Linked DNA regions of Homo sapiens. The protein of the gene in region 1 purifies or fractionates together with the protein of each later gene. This does not show direct contact. Each region holds a gene or a part of one and is shown in the gene's direction. Other genes may lie near its edges. The genes, in order: CIMAP3, ANAPC1, CSNK1G1 and DAAM1.

Region 1 (7,569 bases):
AAACACCTATGTACAGTAAGGTCTGACAACATTAAATAGATATGACTCAAATAAGACTACCCCAAGGAATAAACTCTCAAAGGTCAAGGAGAAAGAGACGATCCTAAAAGCGGCAAGAGAAAAGAAGCAAATAACATATAAGGATCCCCAATTCATCCAGCAACAGATTCCTCAATGGAAACTATACAGGCTAGGAGTAAGTGTAATGACATTTTCAAAGTGCTGAAAGAAAAAAACTGCCAGCTAAGAATACCGTATCCAGGTGGCCATGTCTAAGTTCTGTACATGAGTGGAAATGATGTGTCCAACTTTCAGGCCTTGCCTTCCTGGTCCCTTTCTCTTTCCACAAACTGAGACCTAGCAAGAGCATCAGCCTTGGAGCCAAAAGTGGAACCCCTTGTTGAGATATCCCTTGTTGAGATAAATTCTTAGTGTGAGAAGGCCAGCTAGGGGTTTGTGCCCAGGAGACCTGTGGGATGAACTTCCTACAGCTTTGCACTGCTGAACAGCCACTCTGATTTGGCATCTCCTTTAGCTGAGTTACAGAGTTTTCAGGGCTGGTTAGGTAATCCTGCCTCCTCCCTTTGCCTCTGCCTGTTTTCAGGTATATTTCTCCCCCCAGGCACTGTGATGCTTCCTGTGGGTTAAGGCAGGGGCAGATCTTCTGCAAGGAAACCCAAGATAGTGGGAAAACTGGTTGTCCATCTCAGTATCACTTTTTCCAATGTAGAAACTGAACTGGAGGAAAATTTTCCACATGCTTGTTCTGGGCAGAATGGCAGGAGAGGTGCCACAGATGTGGAAGTCCAATTCTCTTACCGTCTGCTTGGAATTTTTTCACTTCTCGTGGCCCTGGCAACTGTTTTCATATTTGAATTCTGGGATATTGTTGGTGATAATCCCAGTGCTGTATATCTGGTTTTGGTTTTCTAGAGAAGGCAAAGGGTGAAGCCAGTTTGCTTCTATGCTGCTATTTTGGAACTGGAAGTCCATTCATTCACTTTTTTCAGCTTTTCTAATCTGCTGTTAAACCCATACATTGAATTATTATTTTCAGCAACAATACTTTTTACTTCTACAATTTTATTTGATTCATTTACTGTTTCTAAATTCATCTTGTCATTTAATTTCTTAAATATGGTAATCAGCTTTTCCTCTGTGTTGAATTGATTATTATTTAATTCAATAATTTTAAAATGAGACAAATCTATTTAAAACATTATACAAAAAATTGAATCTACTTATCCTCATTAAATTAGACCATTGCAACAGAGCAAGTAATTCCCTGGAATAATAATAATTCTTATATGTCCTCAGAGACAGTCAAGTGAGAAAAGCCATTAACTGTCTCATAAAGCTATAACAGTCTCCATAAACATCTGGCATCCTCTTGATACTATAAAATGTGCATGATGGAAACTACTGAATTCTTAAGGTCTTCATCAAAACTGGCTACACTATAAAACTTTGTCTAAGTACTCCCTGGTACTAGCAGACACCTGCATGAGTTCCTTTGTGCATGGTCATCATTCAAAAACTGGCCTTTTGGCAATTCTTAGAGCTACCTGAAATTCTGCATTAGCCTATTATCATTACACAGATGGTTATACAGGAGATACACATGACATATAGACAGTCTGTCTTTGACTATACGATGTTCGGTCTGGCTTTACTGAAAAGTTGATAAATTTTGCATCACTCAGGATGTAGATGGGCCCAGTTAAGTTATGTTGATCACATTGGCAATATGAACAGAGATTGATGGGAAATTTCTCTTTCCTTGAGTATACTGGGATCTTTATTGACTTTGTTTTTAGAGTCTGATCTTTTTCTTTTAGGCTCTTACCTAAGAAGTCAAGCATTTGCTTTATGTTATTTCCTTGCTTTCTTTCGCTTCCCTATGTTCACCTTGCAGTCCTGTTGCTTTCTCCAAAATCTCAAACCAAGTATGGTTATTTTAAAGTCCATGTTTAATGACTCTGATATCTGGATTTTTCTGTGGGTCTGTTTCTACTCTTTTATTATAAGCTCTTGTTTTATATCAAATGCCAAACATTTTGCATGAAAAAAATGTAAAAATTAGTTGAGTCTCTGGATGATATCTTCAGAAAATACTTACTTTTGTTTATTACATGCAATAAGGATAGAAGTGGATCACTTTAATGCAATTGGGAACTGAATTGGTGTAAAGCTGAACTTCAGGGTTTTTTGACAGCTGGTCTATTTCTTGTTTACCCTTATTCCTAGGGTTTATCTCTTTGAAGTTCTGACTTAAACTTCAAACTGTGTTTTCCAGTTTCCCCTTCTCCATGGCCAACCTAAATCTTGTTTCCGAGTTCTCAGAGGCTGTCTAACCAAAGTTCTGCTCAAATCTTCTGCTTCTTAGCCAGCTTTTTATTTAGCAAGCGTTCCAATGGAACAGCAGCACCAAGGTTGAACTCACCACTTTGGGCTTCTCTTCTCTCTGAGATTTTGGTTCTGAATGTTCTTTCTTTCTGGGTATATCTTTGATATCTTCAAACATATATATTTTACTTATTCAATTCACCTGTTCTCAGCTGGAGAATTAGTCTGAAGCAAACCAGTCTACCAAAGTAAGAATGGATTACCACATTTTCAAGAAACTTTGCGAAATACATTTCATGTCACAAATAATGTAAACATTATTTTCAAAAAGCACATTAATACCTACAAATGTTAATATTACCTAAATTATTAATGGAAGTAAAAATCATCAAATCCATACCAATACAGTCATACACCACATGAAGACATTTTGATCAATGATGAACTGTATATACAATGGTGGCTCCCTAAAATTACAATGGAGCAGCCCTATACAGGTGTACCATTTTTAATTTTAAACCATAGTTTTACTGTTCCTTTTCTATGTTTAGGTAAGTTTAGATACATAAATACTTAATATCATGTTACAATTGTCTACAGTATTCAATATGGTAATGTGCTGTACAGGTTTGTAGCCTAGGAGTAAGAGGCCATACTATAAGCCTAGGTGTGTAGTAGGCTATACCATCTAGGTTTGTGTTAAATATAGTCTATGACGTTCGCAAAACAAAGTTGCCTAATGACACATTTCTTAGAAAACATCCTCATCACTAAGTAATGGGTGATTGCATTTCTTTACATTTTATTTACTATCAGTATTATTGCAATTGTATTTTAAGTAGACAAAATGCTTGGAGTAAATTATACAATAATTTTCAGACCCTATCTTTATTCCATTTAAGCTTGGCTCCTCATAACAACCTTTTATATTACTGGGCTTTCTGCATTATTTCCTATAAATTTCTTCACAATGTTAATGTATATAACTACTACTAATTATTTTTGTAGAGTCCAACAGGACATATTTGAATGTCATGTGGGACATGGGACAACTCACTGTATGCCTGGGCAATGCAGTGTAGGATGTCTAGCCTCCCTAGCCTGTTGACCAGGAACAACACCCCAACAATTTTTAACAAGCAAAAATTCTTCCACAAATTTCCAAAACACCCTCTGGGAGTCACTGTCACCTTTTTTGGAAAGTCTACCTTAGATCTATAAAAATCATCCCTGAAGGCTGTCCTAACGCGGAGTATGTGTGGATTCCAGGGTCATCACCTGTAAAGGGTCAAAGTATGGACCAGTCACACTGGGTGTTCTGTTAACCTCTAACACCTGGACAACTCCTAAAGCCATCCTAAAAATCGAGTGAAAACAAGCTAGTGTTAATATCCATGACAAAGGCAAAAAAGACAAAACACACTCTGATCTTTTTTTCTTCGGTTATTATTATCTTCAGTGATAATAACCTGTCGTATGTCACCCACCAAGTACCACGTTCTGAACTGTTTTAATCCCGTCATCTTGATCCTCTCAACAATCCTATATAGAGGAATTTTTATTCCCAATTTAGAGATGAGAAAACTGGGGCTTAGAAATTTGACTGCCCCAACTTCTAAAAAAAAAACTATTAGAGTCTTCTCTGATTCCGTGGCATTCTACCCGGTCCACGCAAGGCCTCCAGTTCTTTTAAAACCTCGCGCCCCCTCCCCACGGCCCCCCGGGATAGAATGGGCAACCTGATTGGAGGGGCTTGAGGAAAAGGAAAAATGGTCTAAGGGCCTAATATGGAACTAGCTGTCAGCTCAACTCCGCCCCCTACTCCTCTGCTGGGGCGTTGCCCAGGGAGTCCACCCCGGTACGCTGCAGCGGCTGTCTTTCTACTTTCACCTTACTTGCTGGTGGCCCAGACTTCGGGACATTCTGAACCTCACTGTCCTTCCCTCTACAACAGCGCATTCCTCTTGGCCCAGCTTCCAAAGCTATTTGCCGCCCCGTCAACCCTGCAGCCCCTACAGCCGCGAATCCAGGAAACCCTCTACCCGCAGCCCAGCTACTGAGTTTACAATCCCCTGGGCTTTGGGCTCCAAGGTGCGGGTTCCTGCCCCAGTAGTGGCTCGGTGGACGCCCCAACTTGCCGCGCAGGCGCGCTCGGGCCCTCTCCCCCTCCCCGCGCTCCGCAGCTGGGAATCACGGGACTAGCCTTCGTTTCCTTGGCAACGCAGTACACAAGTGCTAGCCCTAGCAGCTCGCGATGTGCTTCAGCAGAGCAGGTGAGGAGGGCTGCCGAGAAGCCTAGAGTAGAGGGCAGGTAGGGGGAAGGGTGGGGAAGCTGGGAAAGACGAAGTGGGAGGAAGTGCAGTTCGCCCCCCTCCAGGAGTTTGGCGTGGTTTTGTAAGCGCACGGTTGGGCCCTGTCCTCTGCTCAGTCTCCCCGACCTTCCCCTCCCGGAACGCGCTCACGTAGACCCAGGTGCCGTCCCTCACGTGGAGCCTCTCCTCTTTATTTTAGACGCTGCGGATAACTACCCTTTTGGAACATGTCAACAGAGGAAACTTTTTCCTCACTTCCATCCCCCGAATTTGATTGGGAACAAGTTTGTCCCTCTTAGGGGATCACCCCACAGAGGGCCTGGGTGTTATTTTTCAGATGTGAGTATTCACCTCCCCTTAGATGCTCCTCAGTTCCCCGGCTATTGAGGGATAGCCAAGTTTCCAAGTTTCGTAAAAGAAAAAATTCTGTGGGACTTGAGATCTCCAGAGTCCCAGCATAAGAAAGCGCTCTGTTCTTCTGCAAGCAGCTGTTTCAGCCAATGCCAGAGATTAAAGGATTATTGCTCCCCGCCTTGCACCTCCATTAAACGCAAGCCCTAGCTTCATAAAATCCCTACTCCTTCCTCACTTCCAAAGGCCTCTGAGCCAGTGCCAGTTACCCTCCCATTCCTCCAAACCTCAGGCTGACAGTTGCATTAGAGTAAGTTCAGCTCTGTGGGGCTCCGAAGACTGATGCATTTGAATATATGGCAATGTCCTATAGTCTACGTATCCAGCCACACCCCTCTACAAAGTTACCTGTATTACTTGTGTAATTCTATGGTCTTGACCTCAAAGGAGTCAAGACAATAAAGAATAATCCCTTGCAGAGAAGGTTCAGATGGGAACACACTAAGCTCACTCCATTTCGATGGCCCTGATGTTCTCTGACTATGCGTTGTTTTTTCTTTCTTTTTTTTTTTTTTTGGTGTTTTTGTTTGTTTTTTAATATACCACCCAAAGGGATATGGCTTGGCATACGACTTATCTAAGATCCCAACCAGTATAAAAGGATATACTTTGGGAGCCAGAACAGCTGTGAGGTTTAAGCCAATACAGAAGGTAATGTGCTGGGATTTTAGTGTTATCCACGTTGTTGCATGCATTTGCACAGGAGTGCAAAGGGCAGAGAGCAAGAGGGGGGTGATCTAAAAGAATATGCCCTGAAATTAAAGAAAAGTAGGCATTTAAGCAAAAGCTATTAAGAAGCCTATCTGAAAAGCTTGGGCATTAACATTGCAAATATGCGTGTGAGTGTACCGGGGAGAGTGGAAAACAATTTACTGAAGAAATGGTCCCAACACAGGGCTTTAGTGTTGAGATGCCTGAGGTTAAACATTCGAAGCTTGTGTTTATATACATTATATTGTCTTGTCAGTTAAATAACAAATTCCAACTTTTCCACCCTTTTGTGTGATTGGGTTGCAAGTCTAAAGTTCAGTAGGGGATCCTAATCTCTTATTGGACGACATTTTCCTGACACTTGAGCTTAGGGAGCAGAGATACTATCTCTAAAAATCTCTCAGTGAGGTGTTAAGCATAGTGGCCGTGATAAGTTGCCTTGGTTCTCTACCCATCCTAGATTTATTTCTACAACCTATATATTACGTATCACTAGGTAGCTGAACCACACCCGTATCTCGGTTTTCTACCTACCGAAGACTTATTTCTGTAGCTTGAGGTGGCTGAACCATAGCTGATTTATGAACAGAAAGAGGATGATTCTGTTTTTTCTACCTGGAAGGCTTTATGTGTATATATATACATATCACTCTGTAACATAATGATCTTTTTCTTGGAAACAGGAAATGACACCTCATGCAGGCAGGTACCAGAAAGTAAGTCCTCAGCAGGAAAAACACAAACAAAATTTTGCTCCATTTAATGTCTTGGTGCCTCGATTTAAGAACTACCCAAAGGACACTTACTATCCCAGGTATGTCTCCTCCCTTTTGGTGCACTTCAACAAAAAAAGCAATAGGAGGAAAAGAAGTACGTAATAAAAGAAGCACATAAAGAAGGGATGACATCCAAACCATCGCAGTTAAATAAGGAACCATTCAGAGATTTAATCAATTGTCTCACAGATTTCTGGCATTGTAGAATGTAGAATCATAGTTACTCATTCAATGAATTTTTATTAACATGCCAGGTAGTTTTGTAGGTTCGATAGATTTTTGCACTAAATCCATCACACAAGGCTCCTGATTTCTTGGGGCTTACATTCTAGAGTCCAGACAGAGCACAGGCAAATACACAAGAAAATATCAATAGTGATAGAGTGACCATATAATTTGTTAGTCAAACGATGACACTTCTGAGAGTAAAAGGGGGCCTATTAATAATTCTACCAAGACAGTACCCATAAGGTAGGGACTGTCATGGACAAACCAGGAAGTAGGTTGTCCAGGCTACAAAGAAGGTAAAACAGGATGACAATGTGATAGGGAGTGATGGCCTGGAGTCTACTTTAGAAAGGGTTGAAGAAATGACAGTTAACCTGAGATCTAAATGACAAGACTGAGCCAGCCCTGTGAAGATCTGGGGACCGAGCATTCCCAGCAGAAGGAACAGCAAGTGCAAAGGCTATAAATTGGGAAGGAATTTGACGTGAACAAAAAGGCATGCTGCCATGGCTAGAGTGTAGTGAGCAAGTAGGAAATGAGACAGAAATGGAGGGCATGCTGGAGCACATAGGCCTTGCAGGCCAACAGGCTTATTCTCAATGCTTTAGGAAGCTATTCAGAATGTATAGACTTGTAGGGCAAAAGATCAAGGACTTTCTTTTATTGATGAGAAATCCAAGGATCACAGAGTGATGTAACTTTCTCAAGTTGCATTAAGGAAGTAGAAGCATTGAGTCTTGACCCCCAAGTCCAGTCCATTATTTCCTGACAGTAAAGAGTCCACA
Region 2 (7,032 bases), on another chromosome or scaffold:
TCCGCCTCCTGGGTTCAAGCGATTATCTTGCTTCAGCCTCCCAAGTAGCTGGGATTACAGGCATGTGCCACCACACTCAGCTAATTTTGTATTTTTAGTAGAGACGTAGTTTCACCATGTTGGTCAGGCTGGTCTTGAACTCCTGACCTCAGGTGATCCACCCACCTCGGCCTCCCAAAGTGCTGGGATTACATCGTGAGCCACCGCACCCAACATAAGAATGGTTTTTACCTTTTAAAGGGTTGTAGGAAATAACAAAGATTATGTGATAGAGTCAGTATGTGGACAGCAAACTGCCCTATTTAGTCTTTGATCTTTTACAGAAAAAGTTCAAATTTTATGTTGTTACTAATTGCAGACAACCCGAATAAACATACTAGAGCCTGGGATTAAATGGCACGCAGCCTTTTTTTTTTTTTTTTTTAAGTACAATTTCCATTTTATTTTTTCTCTGGAGAATAGTCTGTTTTTAGTCGTTTTATTTTCATTTTTTTTTTTTTTGAGACGGAGTCTCGCTTTGTTACCCAGGCTGCAGTGCAATGGCACGATCTCGGCTCACTGCAGCCTCTGCCTCCCAGGTTCAAGCGATTCTCCTGTCTCAGCCTCCCTAGTAGCTGGGATTAGGGGTGTGCCATCACGCCCAGCTAATTTTTTGTATTTTAGTAGAGATGGGGTTTCACCCTGTTGCCCAGGCTGATCTCGAACTCCTGAGCTCAGGCAATCCACCCACCTCGGCCTCCCAAAGTGCTAGGATTACAGACATGAGCCACCACGCCTGGCCTTGTCTTCAGTGTTGAAGGACTCAGCTCCTTACATGGGCTTTGGTGGGTGTGTTTGGTCCTTGTGGGCTTTACAAGGTGGATTCCTGACGACTTTTCTGTGAATTGCACATCTCACACAGTAATTTAGCTTCACATACAGCTTGGGAAGCACATAGGCATTGAAGACACTCGCTTCACAAATGTCCCTGACTGCTGCGGCCTCCACCACATTTCGAATGATGAATTTTTTTTTTTTTTTTGAGACAGAGTCTCGCTCTGTTGCCCAGGCTGGAGTGCAGTGGCGGGATCTGGGCTCACTGCAAGCTCCACCTTCCAGGTTCACATCATTCTCCTCCCTCAGCCTCCCGAGTAGCTGGGACTACAGGGGCCCGCCACCATGACCCGCTAATTTTTTTTATTTTAGTAGAGACGGGGTTTCACTGTGTTAGTCAGGATGGTCTCGATCTCCTGACCTCGTGAGCCGCCTGACTCAGCCTCCCAAAGTGCTGGGATTACAGGCGTTAGCCACCTGCCCAGCCTCGAATGATGAAATTTCTTAATGGCCTTGTCCTTGGGCACACGTCGGGCACAGTTTGTGCAACGAATAGGCTGCATGTGGCTGTGCCCCTTTTTGGCATGATTGTTGTTCCTTCTTTTCTTTGTCATCTTGGAGGCACGGACTGGAGGGAGGAGTGTAGCCATTATTGATCATATTTTTGACTAATATTTAGTGAACTAGAAGTTGCTTATTTGTGATGTCAAGTAGGATACAAATAACACAGTATGATTATAATTTTGTAAAAATGTATAAAGTGTGTATATATGTATGAAAAAAACCAAAAATTCTCTAATGTATTAATAGTAGATATTTTGAGATGGTGGCATGATTTTTATTTATAAAGTATTTCTTATGATTATAGAATCATATTTTAAAATTTTTCAGTATTTTAACTGAGTGGGAAACATTTCCTGTCAAATAAGGATATGGAGACCAGTCCATGGTACTTTAGATTAAAAGCTGAACTCACTGGGAAAAACCTTATTTTGCATGTGTAACTAGTAAAGCAGAAACAACAGTGTACTGTTCGGCACTGTCTGAATAGTAATTATAGAGTACAGCTTTCATACAGAAAAACAGAACCAATAAGGAAGTCAAACTTGGCAGAATAGTTGAGTGCAATTTATAAATAAGTCAGTTGAAGAAATCATCGACCTTTTACCTGTGGCTGATTCGTGTAATGGTGAGAGTCAGCACAAATCTTAACATTTAGCAACAGCATGTATGTGAAGCTAAAACTTGTAATGCTCTCATCTTTAATGTATTTTAAGGAAGTTGATGCCTAAAGTAAATTTATTAAAAATTCAGAGTTAATTATTTAAGATAGTAATAAATTTTGTGCTCTCTTTGGCTTGGTTGTTCTTTATCTTTAACAATTTTAAGAGCTCTGTTCATAAATATCAGTCTTGTAAAGCCCATTGTTCTATACCTGATTTTTCTATTTTATTTTTAAGGTCTTTTTGGTTCATCACGGGTGCAATATGTTGTAGATCATGCAATGAAAATTGTTTTCCTCAATACTGACCCCTCTATTGTAATGACTTATGATGCTGTTCAAAATGTGCATTCTGTGTGGACTCTCCGGAGAGTCAAATCAGAGGTAAGGAGAAAGGCAAGTCACTTCTCCTTAATAGGAAAGGGTAGGCTGGGTGCACTGGCTCACACCTGTAATCCTAGCATTTTGGGAGGCCAAGGCAGGCGGATCACTTGAGGTCAGGACGTTCAAGACCAGCCTGGCCAACATGGTGAAACCCCATCTATACCAAAAATATAAAAAATTAGCCAGGTGTGGTGGCTTCTGTAATCCTATCTACTCGGGAGGCTGAGGCAGGAGAATCACTTGAACCTGGGAGGTGTAGGTTGCCGTGAGCCAAGATCATGCCACTGCACTCCAGCCTGGGTCACAGAATGAGACTCCATCTCAAAAAAAAAAAAAAAAAAAGTATATATATATATGAAAGAGTAGTTAATACTTCATACCCTCACTTTTTTTTTTTTTTTTTGGAAAAATCACTTGTGAATAGTTTTATTATCATCATCATCATCATCATCATCATCATCATCATCATCATCATCTCTAGAGACAGGGCCTCACTCTGTCACCCAGGCTGAAGTATAATGGCACAATTACAGTTCACTGCAGCCTTGAACTCCTGGGCTCAAGTGATCCTCCTGCCTCAGCCTTCCGAATAGCTAGGACTACAAATGTGTACCACCACTCCCAGCTAATTTTTAATTTTTTGTAGAGATGGGATCTTGCTATGTTGCCCAGGCTGGTCTTGAATTCCTTGGCTCAAGCTATCCTCTCTCCTCACCCTCCCAAAGTGCTGGGATTATAGATGTAAGCCACGGCACCTGGCCTCATTTGAGAAATAGATTGAGCTTCTTAGGAAAGAAGAAATACTGTGTCTTTAGTAACTGACTTCAACTTGCATTCTTACAAGGAAATTGCTACTTTATTCTAATTATTGTTTTTTTTTTTTTCCTCTTTCTCTTTATTTTGACTTAAGGAAGAGAATGTTGTTTTAAAGTTCTCTGAACAGGGGGGAACCCCACAGAATGTGGCCACTAGCAGCTCCCTCACAGCACATCTCAGAAGCCTCTCCAAAGGAGATTCCCCTGTGACTTCACCTTTCCAGAATTACTCCTCCATTCACAGCCAGAGTCGCTCAACCTCATCACCCAGTCTACATTCTCGCTCACCTTCTATTTCCAACATGGCAGCTCTAAGGTATAAGGGTTTCCTGGTTTTTCTTTCTAAGCTTTCTGTTTTGTTTTGAAGGATTTAGAATTTCTGTTGACAGCTGTTTTTAGGGGAAATATATTTAGGGGAGATGTTTTTTAGGGGAAATAGCCATTATCCCAATTGAGCCTTTTTTTTTTTTTTTTTTTTTGAGACGGAGTCTTGCTGTGTCACCCAGGCTGGTGTGCAGTGGCGCAATCTTGACTCACTGCAAACTCTGCCTCCCGGGTTCATGCCATTCTCCTGCCTCAGCCTCCAGCTGGGACTACAGGCGCCTGCCACCATGCCTGGCTGAGTTTTTTTTTTTTTTGTATTTTTAGTAGAGATGGGGTTTCACCGTGTTAGCCAGGATGGTCTCGATCTCCTGACCTTGTGATCTGCCTGCCTTGGCCTCCCAAAGTGCGGGGATTACAGGCGTGAGCCACCGTGCTCAGCCCTGAGCCACTTTTACTAAGATTTCTAAGTTTACCATGTCACATTCTTTCCTGAGTCATATTTTGAAGCTGCCTATGCTTGACCTAAGGTTAGTTGCCTCATTTCTACCACTATGTGGGCAACAGTTTGATGAATATTAATTCCCAAAATACTGTGGCACTATTTTATTTTTGCCTTAATTTATGTTAGTTTTTCTTTTTTTTTTACTTGTTATTTGATATGTAAATGTATCTATTTCTCTATATAGATATATATTTAAATGACCAGATATGTATATCTGGTGCTACAGGGACATTGTTTTGTTGATAAATATATATGTCTGACTATACAGGGACATAGTTTAGAGCTTTTTGAATAATCATTCATTTTCCGAAAAAGAAGATGATCTAAGTTTTAGTTGTAAAAGATGAGTTCTTCTAATAATAATTCTAAATCTTTAGAATATAGTAAAGCACATTGACATGAACCATTTAAATAGCTACTCCTTTTTGAAAAATTTTAATTTCTGACCTGGATTATGCCATGAATGCTCTTCTGTCTGTGGAATTTTTGGAAGTGTCATTGGAGTGTGTGTCATATAAGCCTGCCTTGCTAACTGTGATGTACTCTCTCCTCTGTTTATTTTGCAGTCGTGCTCATTCTCCTGCGTTAGGAGTGCACTCTTTTTCAGGGGTGCAAAGGTTCAACATTTCAAGCCATAATCAGTCTCCAAAGAGACATAGTATTTCTCATTCTCCAAATAGTAATTCTAATGGCTCCTTTCTTGCACCAGAAACGGAGCCAATTGTTCCTGAACTGTGTATTGACCATTTGTGGACAGAAACGATTACTAATATAAGGTTTGTTATATATATTATTATATTCAAAGAAAAATGTTGCTGAAAGTCTTGGGAAATATATGGCATTTTGTTTAAAGTTTCCTTTTAATGTGATCAGTTATTAATATATGTAAAAATATATAGAGATATGTATTAAGGCCACCTCAGTTTCAGTAGAGGATATTAATGATATTAAAGTGATCATAGGCTGGACGTGGTGGTTCATGCCTGTAATCCCAGCACTTTGGGAGGCTGAAGCTGGTAGATCACTTGAGCCTAGGAGTTCGAGACCAGCCTGGCCAACATTGTGAAACCCTGTCTCTACTAAAAATACAAAAATTAACTGGGTGTGGTGGTGCATACTTGTAATCCCAGCTACTCAGGTGGCTGAGGCAGAATTGCTTGAACCCAGGAGGCTGAGCTTGCAGTGAGCTGAGATCGTGCCACTGCACTCCAGCCTGGGTGACAGAGTGAGACTATCTCAAAAAAAAAAAGTCATCATAAAAATATTATTTTGTCATCTGATATTTCTTCCTTTATAGTAATAATCTCTCATTTTTCGGGTGTTTTTTGTTCTGGGGAGAAACAGTTAATTTCCATCCGTGAGGAAATGTGGGGTTTTAGCACGTTTCCTAAGTTTTATGTTCATGTTAGTTGAGTGCCAGCTTTACTTTTTGGGAAACATAGCTTAGATCTCTGTTCTGGGTGACCTTTCTTCTTTTATATTCTCTTTAATAATTCACGTGTTAATTTATATGCCAATGTGTGTGCTAGTTAACAGTCTAATAAGTCACTGTCCCTGTCCTCAAAAGAGGCAGATAGCTGAAGGATGGTGACACAGGAGGGACTACTTTTGCTGGTAGGGCTTTGAAAGACGAATAGGTATTCGCTAGGCAGGGAAGTTGAGAAAGACCACAGACGGCAGCTGGGATCAGAACAAAAGTTCTGGTGAGTGCGTGGTGTATTTAGGGAATTACAAGTACTTCCACTCTGGTTTTTGCAGAGGGGAGGGAAAAGGCTAATGAAGAGGAGGCTTCCTAGGCGCAGTGGCTCACACCTGTAATCACTCACTTTGGGAGGCTGAGGCAGATGGATCACTTGAGCTCAGGAGTTCAAGACCAACCTGCCCAAAATGGTGAAACCCCATGTCTACTACAAATACAAAAATTAGCCAGGCATGATGGCGTGCATCTGTAGTCCCAGCTACTCTGGAGGCTGAGGTGAGAGAGTCATTTGAACCTGGGAGTTGGAGGTTGCAGTGAGCCAAGAGCACACTACTGCACTCCAGCTTGGGCAACAGAGTGAGACTGTCTGAAAAAGAAAAAAAGGAGGCTTGAGAGATTACTGATTGCCCTTTAGGCCTCTGGTATGTTTGATGACAGCGGTAAGAAGGCACTTTATAAGTGTGTCGGAAGTTTGGGAAAGAGCAGAACAATAAATGTGGAATTGTCAGCTTATAGGTGGTGATTGAGGTAAGAGAATTAGATTAGAATTGAAGAATTATTGTATTCAATAATTGTGTGTACATGTAGTATATAGGCCTTTTCCCAAGGAGAGGGTTTTAACATTCCTTAGATTCTCAAAGGGATTTGTGGCCTCCAAATAGTTAAAATCCAGTGGTGTAGAATGAGAAGAGGGCTAGGAACTGAAGTCCTGGAAACTTAAGATTTGGGGAATGGAAAGAGACAAAGCTGGCACAGAGAGACAAAGCAAAAGAGGTCAGATGGGAGAAGCAGCAGGAAATACAGAATACAAAAAAGAACATTTCAAGAATACAGAGATGCCAGTATTGCCAGGTACTGGTGAAGTGTGGCCCTGAGAGTTGAACCCAGAGAGGAGGTACCTGGGTGGCAGTGGGTTCCTTGGTGACCTTGGCCAGAGCATTTTAAGCTGGGAGGGTGGCGGGGGAAAGTGGGGTAGAAAAAGTAAATGGGGACTGAGGAAATGAACATAGGCATACAGACTCTTTAAGGAGTTTGCCTTTGAATAGGAATGAAGATACAAAATTAGAGGGAGTCTTGGTCAAGGAGAGTTTTGTTTTTGCTGAACTATAATAAAATTAGTTTTCATGACATCTTGCCCCAGTATTTTCTTTTTCTTTTTTTTTGAAACAGGGTCTCACTCTGTCACCCAGGTTGGAGTACAGTGAGTGACTCAATCACAGCTCACTGCAGCCTTGGCCTTCTGGGCTCAGGTGATTCCCCAACCTCAGCCTCC
Region 3 (7,499 bases), on another chromosome or scaffold:
CCTCCCAAAGTGTTGGGATTACAGGCATGAGCCACTCTGCCTGGCCTAGTTCTGGTATTTTATGTTTGAAGATGCCAATGTAACTCTAACAATATTTAAATATTAATTCCTGTAGTAGTATTTAAATATTAATAATTGAGTTACAGCATATTGGGTTTCCCCAATATACATTAGATATGTTAAGTTTTTAAATGATTACCAAGGGCAATAAAAAAAATGAAGACAGCTCAAGAGAGTGGGAGAAAAGTTTGGAAGTCCCATATTGATCTGTAGGATGAAGGTACTGTACTGACTTAATGAGGGCTATTTGAGATCTGGCCCAGATCTGAGAGCACTGCCTTATAGTTCATATTAAGTATATGGATTCATGGGCTGGGCGCGGTGGCTCACGCTTGTAATCCCAGCACTTTGGGAGTCTGAGGCGGGCGGATCACGAGGTCAGGAGATCGAGACCATCCTGGCTAACAAGGTGAAACCCCATCTCTACTAAAAATACAAAAAATTAGCCGGGCGTAGTGGTGGGCACCTGTAGTCCCAGCTACTCGGGAGGCTGAGGCAGGAGAATGGCGTGAACCCAGGAGGCGGAGCTTGCAGTGAGCCTACATCGCGCCACTGCACTCCAGCCTGGGCAACAGAGCGAGACTCCGTCTCAAAAAAAAAAAAAAAGAATATGGATTCATGGCCGGGTGTGGTAGTTCACACCTGTAATCCCAGCACTTTGGGAGGCTGAGGCCTCCAAGAGTTCAAGACCAGCCTGGGCAACAGAATGAGACCCCCTTCTCTACAAAAAATACAAAAATTAGCCAGGTGTGGTGGTTCACAGCTATAATCCCGGCACTTTGGGAGGCTGAGGCAAGCGGATTGCTTAAGCTCAGGAGTTCAAGACCAGCCTGGGCAACATAGTGAGATCCCATCTCTACAGAAAATACAAAAATTAGCTGGGTGTGGCTGCACACTGCATGCCTGTAGTGCCAGCTATTTGGGAGGCTGAGGTAGAAGGATCGCTTGAGCCTACGAGGTGAAGGCTGCAGTGAGCCAAGATTGTGCCTGCACTCCAGCCTGGGTGACAGAGTGAGACCCTGTCTAAAAAGAAAAAAAAAAAAGAGAGAGACTATGGATTCCCCACAAAAATTACAAAAGTGTAGTTAAACTCACATACCTAATTTTAGGTGGGGTTTGTACTATCTATCTTTAGAGATCTCAAAGCAATGAGTATGTTGAAAATAATAGAATAGAGGACATGTGATGAATTAGGAGTCAAGCCAGTTATTCATACACCTATACAAAAGTGCCTGGAGTTTTTAAAAAAGCTGTAGGAAGAGAGGATGTAAACAAATGCTGCTTATAAATCATTTTTCTTCAGGCAGTGGGTAAAATGAGTGATGCATAGGAATTTGCATTTCTACATTGGCTTACGCTATCACATTTAATCATAACTTGATTTTCTTAATAAAACATTTCTTTCTATAGAACACATTTATTATTTACCATAATCATGTTTTAATTTTTTGAAACATCCTAGTCTATCATAGTTTTAGATATATTGTTGTTCATTGAGCTCATTTTATTTACTATTTCAAAGTTTTTTGATATTTAAACCTGTTTGGCAATTGAAATACCAAGCTCTGTTTTGTCAGGGTAACATGTTTACCACTTGTCACTTTCAGCCAGGTTTTTTTTTTTTTTCTTGGAGACGGAGTCTTGCTCTGTCTCAGGCTGGAGTGCAATGGCACGATCTTGGCTCACTGCAACCTCAGCCTCCTGGGTTCAAGCGATTCTCCTGCCTCAGCCTCCCGAGTAGCTGGGATTACAGGCATCTGCCACCATGCCCGGCTAATTTTTTTTTTTTTTTTTTGATTTTTGGTAGAGATGGGGTTTCTCCATGTTGGCCAGGCTGGTCTCAAACTTCTGACCTCAGATGACCCACCCTCCTTGGCCTCCCAAAGTGCTGGGGTTACATGTGTGAGCCACTGCATCCCGCCCAGGTTTTTAAAGGAACAATTAGTGGATGAGCTGAAATTCCATTTGAATTGTGCATGTGTATATACTCCCACATGTATTCATGTCAATGGCAGAGGTGGAGATGTATTAAACATCCTATTGACCCATTTGAGTTTGAAGTGATTTCCTAAAGGTTTTGCTGAAGTGATTGCCTATGGTGAATCAATTTAACCCTGTCTCATGCATACAGGAAACCAATAGACGTGGTGTTTCGTTTAAGTGACCAAAGCTCATTTCCTCTCTGCCCCAGTTAAGGTGGATAACAGTTCAATTTTGGTGTCTATAAAGAGGTTATCATGACCAATAAAATTAGAGCCTGCCGTGGCAAGTATATTCACTGCCATGGAATAGAAAACAAATTTAGGAGCTACTGTTAAGCATTCTGCTTGTAAGAAGACCTATTTAAGATAGGAAAACCAAATGAAGATTTTTACTCATTTTTCTCTGAATGCCCAACTGCATTTCTCTGAATATTTTACCTGCCATAACGATATGGGTTCTTTTCCTTTTTTTTTTTTTTTTCTTTTTTCTGAAACGGAGTCTCGCTCTGTTGCCCAGGCTGGAGTGCAATGGCGCAATCTCGGCTCACTGCAACGTCTGCCTTCTGGGTTCAAATGATTCTCATGCCTCAGCCTCCCGAGTAGGTGGGATCACAGGTGCCCACCACCACGCCCAGCTAATTTTTCTATTTTTAATAGAGACAGGGTTTCACCAGTTTGGCCAGGCTGGTCTCGAACTCCTTACCTCAGGTGATCCTCAGGCCTCGGCTTCCCAAAGTGCTGAGATTACAGGCGTGAGCCACCGCACCCAGCCTCCAGATACGAGTTGTTTTTTTCGAGTATTACTTTGTTAACTTTTACCCCAACCATTCATTTTCCCAATATTTTCAAACCCCAAATCACCCAGACACAATAAATGAGGTCTCTTTTCTTATCCATAGTGTCGGTATGAAAGTTTATTTTGAAGGTTTTTTTTTTTTTTTTTAGACGGAGTCTAGCTCTGTCTCCATGCTGCAGGGCAGTGGCGCGGTCTCGGCTCACTGCAACCTCCGCCTCCCGGGTTCCCGCGATTCTCCTGCCTCAGTCTCCCGAGTAGCTGGGACTACAGGCACACGCCACCACGCCCAGCTAATTTTTGTTTGTTTGTTTATTTATTTATTATTATTTTTGAGACGGAGTCTCGCTCTGTCATCAGGCTGGAGTGCCATTGGAGTGCAATGGCACGATCTCGGCTCACTGCAATCTCCGCCTCCCGGGTTCAAGCAATTCCCCTGCTTCAGCCTCCCGTGTAACTGGGACTACAGGCACGTGCCACCACCCCCAGCCAATTTTTTGTATTTTAGTAGAGACGGGGTTTCACCATGTTGGCCAGGATGGTCTCCATCTCCTGACCTCGTGATCTGCCCGCCTCGGCCTCCCAAAGTGCTTACAGGAGGACTACAGGCGCGAGCCACCGCGCCCGGCCAATTTTTGTATTTTTAGTAGAGACGGAGTTTCACCATGTTGGCCAGGATGGTCTCCATCTCCTGACCTCGTGATCCGCCAGTCTCGGCTTCCCAAAGTGTTGGGATTACAGGTGTGAGCCACCGCACCCGGCATATTTTGAGTTTTGAGTGGAGGATTAGACAGTCTTCTTCCTTCCCAAATTTGATTATGGGCTCCCTTTAGCCTTTTTCTTTGTTTTCTGTCTTTTTTCCACCACCACCCCGCCCCCGAGGCGCAGTCTCAAGAGGTCCTGAGAACATGTGCCCTGCTCTCTGTTTTAAGGATTAAAATAACTGTCGAGTTACATTGAATCTTTTTTGCCTATTCCATTTGGCTAGGTTAATTCCAGACCTTACACAAACATGTGCAGCTCTTACAAAATGTAGGTGAAGACAACATTTTTCTAACCATTCGGCTTCATGGGCTGTCACAGGAGAACTAAGTGCATGAAAAACCTTTCACAACATTGAAAGAAATTTTAAAAATCTGGTTGAAACACAATTAAAAATCCACAAGAGGGAGATGCTTGCTAAACCGTCAGAAAATAATTCCCTCGAGGGACCTGAGAGAGGAGCCTGGAGCCTTAGGAACAGCCACTGGGTCAGCCACGGGATTAAGGGTGGGAGGGAGCAGGAGTATATAGAGACGGGGGCTTGGTGGAGGAGTACAGTTGAAGGGAAAAGCGGGATGGGTTTCGTGCCTCTGGCAGCGAAGCGTGTACTTGGTCTAAGATCTTGAGCAGAAGGTAAGAGCGTGTTGCCAAAGCAGAGCTCAGTGCTCCCGATATATCTTCTGGTAGTCCCAGAAGAAATGGGGGTGGGTTGCTTTGAAGGCACTTCCGCTTAGCAACCCCACGCGGTTGCTAAGGAGGGGGCAGCCGTGGGGATAACCCGGAAGTGATGGTGTCAGTTTAACGCTGCCTGCCCAAAGTTTGTCCTATTAGGCCCGCCAGGGTACTCTGCGACTCCGGGACGAGGGCGGGGCCGCGCTAGTGGTTCCGGTTCGGCTCCAGCCGCCCCTCGGCTCCTCGCCTTCCCCCTCCCGTCCGCCTTCTCCCCTCCCTCCCGCTCCTGGGAAAGAGAGAAACCACCGCTGCGGGTGGGTAGAGAAGCACTTGGCGCCTCGGGGAGGGGACCGCGCCCGCCTCATTTGCGCCTTGCAGCACTGCTGGACCAGGTATCTGCCCGGCTTCGTCGGGGTTCTGTAGGCTGAAGTCTGAGGGGGTGTGTGTGTGTCTGAGGGGGTTGGTGGGGGGCCCTTTCCTGGGCGTGGGTGGGGGACGCCGTGATCCCGGGTGGGGCGCAGGCTGGCGTTTGTGTCTGTGGAGGGTTGCGGGGGCGGAATGGAGGGGCTGAGGGACACAGCGGGTGGAGAGTTTCGGTTAGCGGGGTAGAGGTAGGCGGAGGAGGCGCCCCTTCCGAGAAACTGACTCTAGCCGGTGTGGACCGGGAGTTTGCCACCTGGAGGGCTTACTCTGAAAGGGGGAGCATCCCCCGGGAGCCAAAAGGAGGGCACAGATCTCGTCAGGGTGACTGGGGCTATCCCGTGCTTCCATTGCCCTCTTTCCCTACCCACCCCGCTGGGACAGAGCTGGACTTCGAAGGTTGTGGGGGTTCTGAGTCGACTGGGTACCGCGGGGAGCCGCCCTTGGCGGAGCTTAGGGCACAAGAGTGGGTAATGAGACTTTCCTCTACCCAACTTCCGTACGCTTCCCCCACTTCTTCCTTTACTGTTTCCTCGCCCCCACGTCCTACAGGAGCAATGTCCCCCAAGTGGGCAGGCATCACAATGTAAAAGAGAGTGGAACTGGGTTTGTTGCCCCTAAATGACACTTAAGATGTTTGGAAAGTGCCTGAATGACATATTCAACCAAGTCTCCCAGCTCGATATTAATTCCGGTATAAATTACCTTAGAAAAGTGGAATTCTGAAAAGCATTTAACAATAGGCTAGTCCAGGTGTAGTCTTGTGTAGTAGATGTACGTGTTTATTTAAAAAGAATGGACTGGGGAAACCATATAGATGTATCACAGGTCTAGGCAAGACATGTTGAGGCAAGGCTTTTGCAGCCTCTTTCTTACCTGCCAGTAAACCTGTCCTAATTTAAATGAAGTAGAAAGATCCTCTTCATTTTTGTTTCAATCAGTGACTGAATACTAGGTGCTGTGTAGTGATGTCTCAGAACAGATATGTGAATTTTCAGAGAGAGAATGAATGTTCTGCTGTTGAGCCTGTGTCTTAATCTTTTAAGGAGATAATTGCGGTCAAGTGGAAGTATTGACTTTCAGGCAGATAAATCTTGGGTTGAACCTAGACTATGCCAGTTGCTAGTTACTGACCTTGGGCAAGTCATGGAACCTACCAGAGCTTTTGTTTCTTCATAAGTAGTATGAGTTAAAATTCTTACCTGTATTATAAGTAACATCCCATTTTAAACGGAACCACCTTTGAATTAGAAGATAAATTATTACCATTAATCATACACAGTCAAGGCAGCCCAGTTTTGTGAAACGAGGTTTGAGATAGGAAAGCAACCGGATAATTTTGAAAAAAAAATGCATACAATAGGACTTTCAGTGTCTTCTCGAAATTGATCGTAGGTAGCATGAAATTCAGTTATCAGTAGTTTCTTAAAATTCAAAATAATAAAGTAGAATATGGCCCATTTATTGAAATGAGCAAAATATATTTTATAGATTTTTCTCAGCTACACCATATTGGTGTTTATAGTATGGATTAACACGAAATACATGAAAAAGTAATGTATGTAAATCTTAACATCACATGTCTCTTTAAAGAGAATTAAAATTGGGGTGTAAAATAGAAGGTACTTGTTTTTTGTTTGTTTGTTTGTTTGTTTGAGACAGAGTCTTGCTCTATCACCCAGGCTGGAGTGCAGTGGCACGATCTCGGCTCAGTGCAACCTCTACCTCCAGGATTCAAGCGATTCTCCTGCCTCAGCCTCCTGAGTAGCTGGGATCACAGGCGCCTGCCACTACACCCAGCTAATTTTTTGTATTTTTAGTAGAGAGAGGGTTTTACCATGTTGGTCAGGTTGGTCTTGAACTCCTGACCTTGTAATCCATCCGCCTTGGTCTCCCAAAGTGCTGGGATTACAGGTGTGAGCCACCGTGCCCGGCCTACTTGTAATTTTAAGATAAAAATCAGCAGCATCAGCAGCACCTCTCATCTCAGTTAGATTTATGCTACTAGAAAAACTTATATAATATTCAGAAAACAAAATCGAATACATTTCTGCCTTTAAATCATTCCTTATTACGATATAGAAATAAATCCAAGAAACATGAAGTCTGTTTTTTATTTATTTTTAGTGACAAGGTCTTTCTCTGTCACTTAGGCCAGAATGAATGCACTGGGGCAATTATACTCACTGCAGCCTCAAACTCCTGGGTTCAAGCAAACCTCCTGCGTCGCCCTCCCAAAGTGTTGAGATTACAGGTGTGAGCCACCTCACCCAGCCCATGAAGTCTTTTTCTTTCTTTTTTTTTTTTTTTTTTGAAATGGAGTCTCACTCTGTCACCCAGGCTGGAGTGTGGTGGCACGATCTCGGCTCACTGAAACCTCCACCTCCCAGGTTCAAGCAATTCTCCTGCCTCAGCCTCCTGAGTAGCTGGGATTACAGGCACATGCCACCACATCCAGCTAATTTTTTTGTATTTTTAGTAGAGACGAAGTGTCATCATGTTAGCCAGGATGGTGTCTATCTCCTGACCTCGTGATCCACCCGCCTCAGCCTCCCAAAGTGCTGGGATTACAGGCATGAGCCACCGTACCCGGCCAAAGTCTTTATACTCATTTGTTTTGTGGATTTAAAATAATATAGTTATGTGTCACCTATTATATGTCAGATTTTCAGCTAACGTAGTTTGCTTTTTGAGGTGACTTATAGTTAGTTATTTTCAAATGTAATTTATACTCAGAGGACAAAAATCAAATAACTTCCTGTAATAATAGATGTTTGTGAGAATACAAAGTTTGCAATTCAGTTTGACCT
Region 4 (7,032 bases), on another chromosome or scaffold:
AACAGGCACTTCATATGTTGTTTGCGGTCCCACCAGCATCCTATGCTGTAAGTGCTATTTATAGATAAGGAGTCTGAGACTCCAGAAAGGTTACCTTGCCCAAGGTTATCTAATTAGGAGGTGGTCATCTAATTGGGAATTTAAATGTATCCGTCTAAGCCCAAAGACTCCTTTCCAATTTGCCTCTCACTAATTCAGTTTTTGAAACCCTGTGGCATGTGAAAGAGCCCTGGTTATCCCACCTTCTCCCCACCCCCAGGCCTAGCAAGCCTGACTTTTCTGAGATGGGATAGGCTTCTGTTTTCTTTAATGTCTTAAGAGTCTGATAAACAGTCCAGGTGGAGAACTGCAGCACTTACTAGTCTGTGAAGCCAGCCTTTTTGGAACAAGTTCAATTACTTTATGTAAGCCTCATTACAAGAATGCTTTGTTCTTTAAAGGACCCCTGAGTGATCTGTTGGCTTTTAAAGAGTGAAAAATAGTATAATAAAGAGTGTGGCCTAACATCTAGAAGGACCTGGGCTTTCTTTATATGTGGTTTCTCCATGCTTTCTCAAGGAGGAAGACTGTGAGGTGAAGTTCAGTATGCTTAGTGGACTGGCTTATTGATTTCCCACCAAAGAAACGATTCAAACGGGAGCTAAGTTCCAGACTCCCAGCAGGAATGACCTCTGGGCCACATTTGTGCCTCTCTGTCAGACCCGCGTGTTCCAATGTACACCTTAGCAGCTTTGACAGAAAGACCCTCTGCAAGGATGCGCTTTGTCCTTTGCCTGCTTCTCATGTGAGCAGGTATTTAGTAAGTGCATAGAGCATTCAAAGAAGCCTCCACAAGGCCTGTGCATACTAGATATTTGGCATAGTAATCATCTTCAGAAATCTAGGCATCTCCCTTATCTACTAAAAGTTGCAAATTAAACCTTCTTCCTAAATGTGAGGCTTGAAAGCTTTAAACTTTGTAGAAATTATTTTATTTTGAAAAGTCACATTTAGAACATCAAGTTCAGCTACATATCCTCAGTTATCTCAGCACGATAAATATAATCTCAGAACCAAATCTGAAAAATCACACATAGAAAATGTTGTAGTCTTTTCTGTTTTGAAAGGTTATGTTCCTTACACAGTATTGGGAAAGGAATTTCCAACTTAATTTTCTTTGACATTTCATAAATCTCCCAACTCTAGTATGGAGAAACTTAATATAGACTGCTGCTATTCAAATGTGCCACCCTCTCCAGGATTTTTAAAAGGATAAATACATGCAGTTTTATTTGTACTAGTGACCCGCAGTAAAATGTGTAGTCATTAATTTGGGGATAGTTTTGTGTCATTAAGCTTAGGAACAAGGAATGATCTTCATAAAAGGCTGGATTCTGAGCTACAGATTCAAAGTGATTGCATAAGAGTCCAAACGAGTTCAGCTATGTCATTGGAGATTAAACGTTCTTGGCTGGATTTGTGTGAGTTTTCCAGGGGATGGGTCTCAGGGAGCTTTGGGAGAATTCATTGGCTGTCTCTGCACCCAGCTTCCTTACTCACCATCCCCTGGTGACAGCTGTCTGTGAGCATCACCAGCAAGAGGACAACTTTGCAGAAACAATAACAAGATTTTAAAGACCGAAAAAACTACTGGGTTTTATTTCAGTTGCCATAAATGATACTGATGTATTATATTTATTTTGCTTTGATCTTTACCCTTCTCATTATGAAATCATATTTAGCTTTTAGTTAACATTAGTTACTTAATGCTGATACTATTGATTGTCACTCTTGATGAGTTATGGTCCTGAAAGAAAGGCTGAGACTGGGTCATTGAGACCCATGGATATGAGTCAAGCTTTTCTTTTTCAATACAGTCACCCCAATCTGTTTCTCAGCCAAGCATTTCTATCAGAATTTGTAATAGGTAAAAAGATTAAACTAGACAAGCGTGTGTTCAGAATAGGATGAAGAAAAGGGACCAGGAGCTCCATGGATGGAGGATCCTGGAGTCATAAGACTTGGGGTACTTTAGTGCAACCAGGTGATCACAGAGTGAAAGGGAATGGAAAGGTCTAGACACCTTACTGGCATTCTCAATTTTATAATAACAACTGCAATCTTACATGGAACCTTGCTTCTGCGGCATCAGCATTGCCTAGAAATTTGTCAGGAATGCAACATCTCAGACCTCACCCCAGACATACCAAACCAGGCTCCATAGTTTAACACTATCCTCAGGTGATTTTCATATCCATATTAAAGTTTGAGAAGCACTGCTCTAGCAGATCCCTGGGTAGAAACACACACACACACACACACACACTCACTCCATATCCTGATTTCTAAATGATGTTGAATAATTTCTAGAAGTTACGCATTTACTCTGAAGGAATTGTCTATCCTAGTAATAGCTCCAAATTAATTTTTCCTCTTAAAAAATAATTAGATGTAACAAAATCCCTTTGGTCTTGATTACACTTTTTGGCTGAGGAATAGGAATGGTAGCATAGGAGGACTGCTGCCCACCTCCTGTTTTTGATAATGTGATGGTATTATTATCTTTAATTGCCAGAATGTTGTATTCAACTACAGGTTCAGTCTTATTTCTATCAAATACAAGTAGTAGTATCTACATCAAAGTGTAATTATAGAATAGTTATACAAGCATTTGGGCAACGTCATCTCTACGAAGATTTCTAAACTTTTCCCTAAGGCTTTATTTAAAATTTGAAAGACTTAACTTACTTAATCATAGATTTGTTGTTTATATTTAAAGTGATAGTGACAAATAATCTGTAGGTTTGTCTTGTTTGTACTGTAATTAAAAAATAGAATTTGAAGAAGTAACTTCTGTTTTCTTTGCATAGAGAAAATCTCTGCTGGCTTTAGAGAAGGAAGAAGAAGAAGAAAGAAGTAAAACTATAGAGAGTTTAAAGACAGCACTGAGGACAAAACCAATGAGGTAATTTTCCCCTGGATGGCATGTTTTTTTTTTTTCTCTCCTTCCTTCCTTTTTTTGCAATAGTCAAACCTTCTAGGAAGTCTTAAGTTAAAACCATAAAATTAAACCATAACATACTTTAATCATTAACATTTAATAAAGTTATTTTCTTCTGTGAAAAGGTATGTAGGCAGCCACTAGGATGGCTAAAAAAAAACAAAACAGAGAGAGACTTTAACAATGGTAAGTTAGTAGACAAGAATGTAGAAAAATTGGGACCCTCATTCATTGCTGCTAGGAATGTAAAATTGTGAAGCCACTTTGGAAAAGGGTTTTAACAGTTTCTCAGAATGTTAAATATAGTGTTGCCATATGACTCAATAATTCTGCTCCTCGGAATGTAGCCAAGGGAAATGAAGACATGTCTCCCAAAAACATGTATGCAGATGTTCATATCGGCATTATTCATGATAGCCAAGAAGTGAAAATAACCCGTATATTGATCAGCTGATGAATGGATAAATGAAATGTTATATATCCACATAATGGAATATAATTTGGCTACAAAAAAAAGGAATGAAGTACTGATACATGCTACAACATGAAATGACCTTGAAATATGCTAAGTGGGAGAAGCCAGTAACAAAGGAGACCACACACTGTATGATTCTATTTATAAGAAATTCCCAGAATAGGCCAATCCATAGAAACAGAAAGTAGATTAGTGGTTGCCAGGAGCTGAGGAAGTGGGGAAAATGTTCTCTTTGGGTGATTAAACTGTTCTAAAATTAGCTAGTGTTGTTGGTCACACAGCTCTGTGAATATACTAAAAGCTACTGAATTGTACACTTTAAAAGGGTGAATTTTATGGCATGTGAATTATTTCTCAATACAAGTATTACTTTTCTTTAAAGATGGGTACACTTTCTGGCAACAGTGATTCATTTCCTCTCTGATAATCAGCTTCTATGTTGTGCCTCCTGCACTTTCATTCCTTTAATGCCTCTAGGATTTGCTGAGATGCTGAGGTTCTTATAAGTACATTACATGAGCACAGGTGCTATGAATGAAGCCAACTGGTTTAACGAGCTTGGCTACATCTGGGTCATGTGGTTGGGTGAAAAGCCTAGAAAATAAAGATTCCCTTTCTTTATTTGACTATAAAATGCAAACTAAGAAAAGTCTGACTCATGAAAAATACTGTGTAGTTATATGACAGAGATCTAGACTATCCTAACTGTATCAGCATTTCTCTCAATATGTTCTGCACTCTCAGATGTTAATCGATATCCAAGCCTAAATAAGTTTGGAAAATTTATCACATAAACAGGTTATGTTACTTCTGAACTTTTCGGTGGCTTTAATATGTACATGTGCATTGTGAGTTAGTCTCATTGATTAACTTAAGTGTAAGAAATATTAATAACGTTAGTATGCAACAATAAAGTATTGCTTTATTATTGTATTCAGTGTACATGGAATATTGAGATTCCATGTAGCATGTCATATAAGAGAAGAATTTTGTCACAAAACCTTAGGGATGTAGATTATCATTTGTTCAACAAGCAAATATCCTGGAATTTAAGGAAGCTTTTGACTTTCATTGATAGGGTGTTTGGGTCAGTGATCAGCACTTAAAAGTGCGTCAGCAATCAACATATAAAAGCGCATGGGCCAGACATGGTCACTCACTATCCCAGCTACTTGGGAGGCTGAGACAGGAGGTTTGCTTGAGGCCACAAGTTCAAGACCAGTCTGGGCAACATAGCAAGTCTCCACCTCTTAAAAAAAAAAGTTAAAAAGAAAAAATTGACTGGGAATGGTGGCACGCACCTGTAGTCCCGGCTACTTGGGAGGCTGGGGTGGAAGGATCACTTGAGCCCAAGAGTTCAAGGCTGCAGTGAGCTATGACAGAGCAAGACCCTGTCTCTCTTAAAGAAAAAAAAAAAAAGGATTGGGGTGGGGGCATGGGAACTGTATGCTAAATAACACAGGAACAGCAGATGGTTTTAATCTAAGACAAGATATGTATTCCGAGTATTCTCTTGCTTCTAATTTTTTATGAATATATGATCTGTTGTTTGGTTCTTTGTACCCATTGAGATATGTTTATCACAAATGGAGGGGTTTTTTTTCACACTTTTGGTTAGAACTGACTATTGGGTCTGTGCCAAGGAAGAGGCAAAGAATTAAAAAGACTTCATCAATGTAAGCCTTTTGGCACTTTAGGAACTAAATCTTTCTTTCCCCTGCCCTCTAGACTTTTCTGTTAGGGGCTATTATAAAACCCAAAGGCACTTAAGCATGGTGCATTTCTCTTCATGACAGGTTTGTAACCAGATTCATCGACTTGGATGGCCTATCATGTATCCTCAACTTTCTAAAGACCATGGACTACGAGACCTCAGAGTCTCGAATACATACTTCTCTCATTGGCTGTATAAAGGCGTTAATGAACAACTCTCAAGGCCGGGCTCACGTCCTGGCTCATTCTGAGAGTATTAATGTAATTGCTCAGAGTCTGAGCACAGAGAACATTAAAACGAAGGTGGCCGTGCTGGAAATCTTGGGCGCCGTGTGCCTGGTTCCCGGGGGCCACAAGAAGGTTCTGCAGGCCATGCTGCACTACCAGAAGTATGCCAGCGAAAGGACCCGCTTTCAGGTGGGTGTTCGCTCAGCCTTCTTCACTCACCCCTTCTTTAAAGTCTGCTCAAACACGTGCTTTTCCTGTCCCTGAAAGGGGAATGTTACTTGAGATGTCCTCTTGTGGTGATTACTCACAGTGTGACTTTAAACATTCCCTTCTTCTTAGGTTTAAGAACCAGAGAATAGAGTATACTTTCAATAGTTGATGAATCTGGGCCTTTAGATTTGCAGAACTTGAAAATGTGGTCTTGCATCCTATATGTCATATAGCACACATCTTTTGAACCCACCAAACTGGGTGTTCCCTGAAAATTTTACAGCTTGCCATTCTTGAATTAGGATCAATATTAATAATTTTTCATATTTCACTATATTACTTGGATGTAAAAAGCAAGCAGAGATAATGAAGCAAAGGCTTTTGTATACATGTATGTATGATGTAAGAATTTTGAAATTAGAGTTTTTAGGACTGTTCTTAAGGAGAAAAAGGGTGGCTTTCTATGGGTCAGTGTAATCCTGTCTAAACGTAAGATTTTAAAAGTTAACTTTTTGGTGGCTCACACCTCTAATCCCAGCACTTTGGGAGGCTGAGGCAGGCGGATCGCAAGGTCAGGAGATCGAGACTGTCCTGGCTAACACAGTGAAACCCCGTCTCTACTAAAAATACAAAAAATTAGCTGGGTGTGATGGTGGGCGCCTGTAGTCCCAGCTACTCGGGAGGCTGAGGCAAGAGAATGGCGTGAACCCGGGAGGTGGAGGTTGCCGTGAGCTGAGATCATGCCACCGCACTCCAGCCTGGGCAACAGAGCAAGACTCCGTCTGAAAAAAAAAAAAAGTTAACTTTTGAGTATAAAAAAATTCATAAAATGAGCATAAGGTTAGTAACGTTTCAGTCCTTTGTTTTTCTATTTTTGATAGACATTAATTAACGACTTGGATAAAAGCACTGGGCGGTATCGAGATGAAGTGAGTCTCAAGACTGCCATCATGTCCTTCATTAATGCAGTGCTCAGCCAAGGTGCAGGAGTGGTAAGAACCTTCTACAAATTAAAAATATATTAGTAAATAATAATTTATAAAAAGTGATTATTATGTAGTCTAAAAACCACAAATATGTATTTTATTGCCATTTTACTTTCAGGAGAGTTTGGACTTTAGACTTCATCTTCGCTATGAATTTCTGATGTTAGGAATTCAACCTGTAATAGATAAATTAAGGGAACACGAAAATTCAACATTAGATAGGTAAGTCAGACTATTATGATGTGAGAAAGTTTCTGTGTTTCCCATCTGTGTAATGCAATACCTCATCAAGTGCTGGCCTGTGGTTACTTGTGCCCTGTCTGTAACATAAAGAGCTTGTATCAGAATGTTAGTTCAGCTAATGATGTTTTCATAGTAAGACTTTGTTGATGAGGGAAGCAGCACATTATGTAGAGAACTTAATGTGGGTTTTAGCATTA

What was found.
Region 2: the proteins of CIMAP3 (region 1) and ANAPC1 purify together in Homo sapiens (affinity purification with mass spectrometry; 3 studies listed by BioGRID and IntAct, with this or other methods). This does not show direct contact.
Region 3: the proteins of CIMAP3 (region 1) and CSNK1G1 purify together in Homo sapiens (affinity purification with mass spectrometry; 2 studies listed by BioGRID and IntAct, with this or other methods). This does not show direct contact.
Region 4: the proteins of CIMAP3 (region 1) and DAAM1 purify together in Homo sapiens (affinity purification with mass spectrometry; 3 studies listed by BioGRID and IntAct, with this or other methods). This does not show direct contact.

What each region holds. Positions count from the first base shown.
Region 1 is NC_000001.11:111,342,053-111,349,621, forward strand, and holds the start of CIMAP3 (ciliary microtubule-associated protein 3), read left to right. Parts: upstream 1-4,569; 5' UTR 4,570-4,600; coding exon 4,601-4,619; intron 4,620-4,857; coding exon 4,858-4,997; intron 4,998-5,621; coding exon 5,622-5,720; intron 5,721-6,463; coding exon 6,464-6,594; intron 6,595-7,569. UniProt on the Homo sapiens protein: During primary cilia disassembly, involved in cilia disassembly. Required specifically to control cilia retraction as well as the liberation and duplication of the basal body/centrosome.
Region 2 is NC_000002.12:111,860,193-111,867,224, reverse strand, and holds part of ANAPC1 (anaphase-promoting complex subunit 1), read left to right. Parts: intron 1-2,273; coding exon 2,274-2,419; intron 2,420-3,329; coding exon 3,330-3,550; intron 3,551-4,626; coding exon 4,627-4,836; intron 4,837-7,032. UniProt on the Homo sapiens protein: Component of the anaphase promoting complex/cyclosome (APC/C), a cell cycle-regulated E3 ubiquitin ligase that controls progression through mitosis and the G1 phase of the cell cycle.
Region 3 is NC_000015.10:64,353,150-64,360,648, reverse strand, and holds the start of CSNK1G1 (casein kinase I isoform gamma-1), read left to right. Parts: upstream 1-4,475; 5' UTR 4,476-4,661; intron 4,662-7,499.
Region 4 is NC_000014.9:59,317,641-59,324,672, forward strand, and holds part of DAAM1 (disheveled-associated activator of morphogenesis 1), read left to right. Parts: intron 1-2,849; coding exon 2,850-2,944; intron 2,945-5,251; coding exon 5,252-5,585; intron 5,586-6,487; coding exon 6,488-6,598; intron 6,599-6,710; coding exon 6,711-6,814; intron 6,815-7,032. UniProt on the Homo sapiens protein: Binds to disheveled (Dvl) and Rho, and mediates Wnt-induced Dvl-Rho complex formation. May play a role as a scaffolding protein to recruit Rho-GDP and Rho-GEF, thereby enhancing Rho-GTP formation. Can direct nucleation and elongation of new actin filaments.